Linked DNA regions of Homo sapiens. The protein of the gene in region 1 purifies or fractionates together with the protein of each later gene. This does not show direct contact. Each region holds a gene or a part of one and is shown in the gene's direction. Other genes may lie near its edges.

Region 1 (3,157 bases):
CAGGATCTGACCTGGAGTTTACAGGCCCCAGCATTAAACCAGAATGTGGGTGAGCGTGACTGCAATGTCTCAGGCCTGAGTGCAAGGCCAGCTTGAGTGAGCAGGGTAGGTGCTAGAAGTGGGTGCTGCCAGAGTGGATGGGGCCCGTGGGTACCATGGGTGCCTTGCAGTGGTTGCTGAGCCGGAAGTCAGGGAGGGGTGCAGACGCCCCAGAGGGAAGGGCCTGGAATCCCATAGCTGGTAGGCACACTACAGAAACTTGTTTTTGTGAGTTTCACCTCATCTGAACCCTACAGTAACTGGCATGTGCTTTAAGCCTCTTAACTACTAGTGTCAAGTCATTTGGGAGATGGCAGTGAGCAGGAGCCAGCTCGCTTGCAAAGCCATCTAATCGGAGGTGACTTTGAACAGCTTACTTAAATAGTTTCCTCATCCGTGAAAGGGGGGTGAAGACAAGACCCAGCTGAGGAGTTCTGTTGAGAGTGACATGAGTGAGCTCACGGCTGGCCCTTAGAGCCGCACCTGGTGCTGAGCAAGTGCTGGTGCATGTCTGGCCTCCTGATCCCCTGGGTCTTCCTCAGCCCCGTTGTCAGGACTGTGCCTTCCCACATCCACTGCCCAGAGGCCCCCTCAGCACTGCACCAGGGCCTGTGGGGTCTGTGAGAAGCAGCTGGCCAAGGTGGTCAAGGATGGCATCCTATGCTTAAGCTCTGGAACTGGGCTTGTCTTCAAACACAGGCTCTGCCATTATTAGCTGTATGCCTTTGGGCAAATCTGCTGAATGGGAGAATACAGAACCTGCCTCCCAGGTGGTGGTCGGGACAGGTTCAAGGAGTGCCTGGCTCATGCGAGCTCTCAAGGACTTTGTAAGGTTAAGCTGCCAGAGGAAGGTTGGAAGGATGTGACACAAGGGCGTTCTCTGGGTTTGATGGTGGTACAGGCAGGGGCAGGGCTGAAGAGGGTGACAGAGCTCTCTGTAGGGAGGTTGGAGAGGGTGACAGGGCTCTGTGGTGGGCAAGGGATGGGGAGGTTCATGGAGAGCCCCAAGGCAGTGTCTGGTCTGTGGTCTCCTGCAGGCACCCCGCTCAGCCAGGCTATCATTCACCAGTACTACCACCCACCGAACCTTCTGGAGCTCTTTGGAACCATTCTCCCACTGGACTTGGAGGATATCTTCAAGAAGAGCAAGCCCCGCTATCACAAGCGCACCAGCTCTGCTGTCTGGAACTCACCGCCCCTGCAGGGCGCCAGGGTCCCCAGCAGCCTGGCCTACAGCCTGAAGAAGCACTGAGGCTGGCCTGCGGCCTTCTTGGCAGCCTCGCCTCCTGTCCATGTCTATCTGTCTGTCTGTCGGTCTCTGTCTTGGTCTGTTGCCCTCCTTCTTGGCATGCCATTGTGGAGGGCTTGGCCAGGTGTATATAAACGTCCTCTGTGCTGGGTGTTTCTGCTGCAGGTGGCAGGTGGCCCCAGGCCTGTTTGGAGGATGGGCTGGGTGGGTGGGTGGGGAAGAAATGGGCCCAGCCCCACATGGCCTGCAGACAGTGCTCTGTAAATAGTTGTTTTAATTTAGCTGAATGTTAGCATTTTAGTCTTTGGCATTTTAGCGTTTGGGAGGTAGATTAATAAAGTATATTCCTTCAAGCCTGCTGTTGATACCATGAAGACTGGGCGCCTCAGTCCCAGCCCTGTAGCTGTGTGTCTTGGGCCACCAGTGGCCTGCAGGACGAAGGTACTGTTCCATCACCTGCGGTGTGCCTCAGGATCACCAGGTGCAGGCCCCCACCCTCGGAGATGCTGCTGCAGTGAGTGGTTCCACTGCCTGGATAACCCTTGAGGAACACGTCAGTTACTGTCACGATGGGGCAGGTGGAGCTCCTTCCTATTTTTTGGGGTGCTCCCTGTTTGTAAAGGGGAGTTTGTTCATTGGGAAAGACCTGGGTCTTGACACGGCCCTGCCACTTAGTCCCCTACCCTCTCCATTCCCCAGGCTCCACCCGTGCTGCTCAGGTGCAAATGGACTTGAGAGCATCTATGTGCTGGTGAAGCATGAGGTCTGAGTAGAAAAGGGGTATCCCTTGAGACCACCTTGGGACCAGTGCTTGCAAGCAGCGAGATATTTCCCCAGCAAAACCAGGCAGCTGCTAATTAAATGCTTAGAACCAATGAAAGCTGGCTGTGGTCCTGCCTGTGAGCTGCCTACTGCTGCCTTCTGAATGCATATATCTGCTACTGTAGCCCCGGGTTGTCAAACTATGGCCTGTGGGCCAAATCCAGCCACAGTCGGTTCTTTAAAGTTTTATCGAAACACAAGCAATGGAAATGCCCATTTCCATTGTTGTCTCCAGTTGCTCTGCTCCGAGGGCAGTGTTAAGTTGTGCAGCAGAGGCCCCTCCATGCAAAGCTGAATATGTTTACTATTTGAACTTTTTCAGAAGTTCTGCTTAAGGACAAAATAAAGCCTAAATCCAAGAACACTTTTAAAAATGAGGAAATAGTGAACACAATAGACGGAAGTCTGGAAGTTTCTACCCATGCCAAGAAAAGCATTTTATGTTTTGTTCACATATGTTGTGCAATTCAAATTTTTTTCCCTATATTCTCTGACTAGACACTTGTACTGAGTCAATTGGCGAGTGTGTCTGTCTAAAAGCACAATATCAAAATATCACTTAAAGCATCTTTACATAGTGTGTTTAAGAAAAAGTTGTTATTCAGCAGAAAGGTAATTCCAATTGGTCTGCATATTTATCAGCACTTGGTATTGTCTGTTTCTTATTTTAGCCATTCTGATAGGTGTGTACTGATATCTAATCATGGCTTTAATTTGAATTTCCCTAATGGCTGATGGTGAACATCTTTTCATGTGCATTTCTGTCATCTGTATGTCTTTGGTGAAGAGTCTTCAAATCTTTTGTTCATCTTAAAATTGGATTGTTATATTACCATTGGGTTTAAGAATCTACATATTATGGATACAAATATGTTGTCAGATATGTGTTTTGCAGCATTTTCTCCCAGTCTGTAGCTTGTCTTTAAAAAAAAAATTTTTTTTTTTTTTTTTTTTTTTTTTTAGAGATGGGATCTTGCTACGTTGGCCAGGCTGGTCTCGAACTCCTGGCCTGAAGTGATCCTTCTGCCTTGGCCTCCCAAAATGCTG
Region 2 (3,827 bases), on another chromosome or scaffold:
GACTAAAGCAGTTCCACACTTAGTTCATTCCACTAGCTCTGTTTGTATTACTCATCAGTACCTAGAATTGTCAGGATTTCTGTTTTCAATCTGTAATGATCAATTTTCCTGTTTTGTCAGGAATTGTATTTGGTTTCAGGTGATAGAAAGAGTCAAGAGCTCCTTAAGGACTTTCCATTTTAGTGGATAATTGCCTGTGAAATAAACAGTGGTACCCTTAAAGTGTGGAGGGCATGTTTCAGTCTCCACACTTGAGCACTCTGCCTGCATATTGGGCAACATTATACATAATTTCTTTTTTGTCCTAAGATTAAAGAGAATCTGAGAGTTATAATAGGAAGGTGAGGTGAACCAACACATATAGGGGCAGGAGAGGCAGCAAAGGATGTGGATCCAAGAGAGCCACAAAAACCTTGAAAGGGTGGTGTTGGAATGCCTATTATTTCTTAGCTGGTTTTGAAATAATAATTATTTATTGGAGTTTTTATAATTTGGCCTTTAAGATTGTCTCCAAAAAGACAATTAATTCCCTTGCTTACATGCCTTTTTATTTGTGTCCATATTTATTTGTTCTTTTTTATATCCTGTTTCTCATTGGAGATGAATAGATGTCTAGCTTACAGCCAGATATGTAGGGAGTCTTCCTTGGAGGAAAATATCATGGAATAATGGAACATATGGAAACCAGGCTATATTGTTTGAACTTAAGAGATTTTAATCCCTATGACTGAGTTCTTTAGACCTGGTCATTCTTTTCTGTGCTGAAATGTTTTGTTTAGTATTTGCAGTGGACTCATAAAGGGATTAATAAGTCTTAAATTTTATATAATACTACATTACAGAATATAGTACCACAGACATATATTTATGTCACAAACTATATAGTATCACAGAGCTATTCATTTTCTGTTGTCTTTGATCCCGTGTAAAGTTCATGACTAATTTTTATAACAGATCTTAGCCATATTTCCTTCTTGATAGGTTCCCTCCATTCCATCCTACTTCTTATATTTGATTTTCCAGCATACCTCTCATACCTCTACTGTTCTCACATTAATTTAGCCAATATGGCCTAAAAGAAGATTGCTGTTGTCTGGGCGTGGTGGCTCACGCCTGTAATCCTAACACTTTGGGAGGCTGAGGTGGGCGGATCACAAGGTCAGGAGATCAAGACCATCCTGGCTAACATGGTGAAACCCTGTCTCTACTAAAAATACAAAAAATTAGCCAGGCGTGGTGGCGGGCGCCTGTAGTCGCAGCTACTCGGGAGGCTGAGACAGGAGAATGGCGTGAACCCAGGAGGCAGAGCTTGCAGTGAGCCGAGATTGTGCCACTGCACTCCAGCCTGGGTAACAGAGCGAGACTCTGTCTAAAAAAAAAAAAAAAAGATTGCTCTTTAGAAAGTAATGAAAATGTTTTACATACATTAATTGAATGAGATCAGTTAAGTCCTCACTTTCCAGTCTTGACGATATCTACTACCTCTTAATATTAAATGGTTAGGTTTTTATCTCCATTGTACCATAACATCACTTTTCTTTTTTTATAAGTAAAACATCTATTTTCTGGGAAAATGTAGAAATGAGCTATTTCTATGTTTTTAACTTACTTTATTAAATACAGTGTTGTTTTAGTCCATGAGGCCTCCTAAGCAAATAAAAACAATATAAGAATATGCTTAGAGACCAGTGGTTTTCAGTAGTTTTTATATGGGCCTTCCCCATTCCAATTTGGGAGCATATGCTCTAGAATATTCCTGTAACATTTTTTTGAATTAAAATGTGTTAGACTAGGCACTTCATGTGTGTGTGCTAATATAAATGATAGTTTTGTTTCAAATTCCAGTTGTTTCTTGCTGATATATATAAATATATATACATATAAATATATACATATAAATGTATAAATATATACATATAAATATATATACATATAAATATATATACATATAAATATATATACATATAAATATATATACATATAAATATATATACACATATAAATATATACATAGAAATATATAAATATAAATATATACATATAAATATATACATATAAATATATGTATATATATTTATATATATTTATATGTATATATATTTCTATGTATATATTTATATATATGTATATATATATTTTTTGAGACAGAAGCTTGCTCTGTTGCCCAGGCTGGAGTGCAGTGGCACCATCTCAGTTCAATGCAACCTTTGCCTTCCAGGTTCAAGCAATTCTTGTGCCTCAGCCTCCTGAATAGCTGGGACCACAGACACTCGCCACCACGCCCAGCTAATTTTTTGTATTTTAGTAGAGACAGGGTTTCACCATGTTGCCCAGGGTGGTCTCGAACTCCTGAGCTCAGGCAATCTGCCTGCCTCTGCCTCCCAAAGTGCTAGGATTGCAGGCGTGAGCTACCACGCCCGGCCTCTTGCTGCTATATTTTGTATATTGATCTTGTATCCTGCAACTTTGCTATACTTGCTTAGTAGTTCCAGGAGTTTTTTTAGTAAATTCTTTGGAGTTTGCTACGCAGTTCACAGTTTGCTACACAGTGCTAGGATCTGTGAATAAACACAATTTTTCTTTTTTTTTTTTTTTCTCAAAATGTACACCTTTTATTTCCTTTTCTTTGTTTTTTTTTCCCCCTCCAGGGTGATTTTATTATTTTTGAAAACAGTAATGTAGGATATCTTTTTAAGCCTTATTTTCACTTCTACATCTCACCACTGTTAAGTCAAACTCATCCTGAGTTCAATAAATAGGTTGATTGAGTGGAGTGGGTTTTTTTTTCCTTGTTTTCAAGAAAATCACAGACTAGAGCAGTAACTGATCTCTTATCAAGTATGTTAATATTTTGATTTTTTTTTTTTTTTTTTTTTTTGAGACCGAGTCTCACTCTGTCTCCCAGGCTGGGGTGCAGTGGAACGATTTCGGCTCACTGCAACCTCTGCCTCCCAGATTCAAGCGATTCTCCTGCCTTAGCCTCCCCAGTAGCTGGGATTACAGGCACCCGCCACCATGCCCAGCTTTTATATTTTTAGTAGAGATGAGGTTTCACCATGTTGCCCAGGCTGGTCTCGAACTCGTCACCTCAGGTGATTCACCCGCCTTGGCCTCCCAAAGTGCTAGGATTACAGGCGTGAGTCACTATGCCCGGCAAAGTATGTTAATATTTCTGATCAGAAGGGATTTCACAAACCTGGCTTAGTTGTGTCTCTTGTTACTTAATCTAAGTAAAAATAATATTTATTTTTTGTTTTATCTTAATCTTATGATTCAGTAATGTGTTATCTGTGTTCATTCCTCAGGAAACACAAGAAGCAAGGAAGTCATCCAGTAAGAAAGATGAAGAACATATATTATCAGGAAGAGATAAGAGACTGGCTGAGCAGGTATCTTCATACAATGTAAGTAAGAAAATAAGATATATAGAGCCAGGTGTGATGGCTCTTGCCTATAATCCCAGCTACTTGGGAGGCTGAGGCAGGAGGATCACTTGAGACGAAGAGTTCAAGGCCAGCTTGGGCAACATAGCAAGACCTTGTTTCTAAAAACAATTTTTTTAAATTAGCCAACTGAGTTGGGAGGATCACTTGAAGGCCTCCCTGCCTAATGTCTCAAAAAAAAAAAAAAAGGAAGCCAGAAGCAAAATATATAGCCTTTTTTCCCCTATCTTTTAGTTATCTGTTTATTTTTTTCTCTTTTACTTATTTCTCTTTCTTTTATATGTCTGCCTCTTTACCATGCACTTTTTATACATCTATCCTGAAATACACTATGTTGCATATATTTTTGTTTTAATAAAATTCTTCTGTGTTTTTCATGAATAT

What was found.
Region 2: the proteins of INCENP (region 1) and GPALPP1 purify together in Homo sapiens (co-immunoprecipitation; one large-scale study listed by IntAct). This does not show direct contact.

Annotation. Positions count from the first base shown.
Region 1 is NC_000011.10:62,150,686-62,153,842, forward strand, and holds the end of INCENP (inner centromere protein), read left to right. Parts: intron 1-1,076; coding exon 1,077-1,291; 3' UTR 1,292-2,484; downstream 2,485-3,157. UniProt on the Homo sapiens protein: Component of the chromosomal passenger complex (CPC), a complex that acts as a key regulator of mitosis.
Region 2 is NC_000013.11:45,017,025-45,020,851, forward strand, and holds part of GPALPP1 (GPALPP motifs-containing protein 1), read left to right. Parts: intron 1-3,305; coding exon 3,306-3,404; intron 3,405-3,827.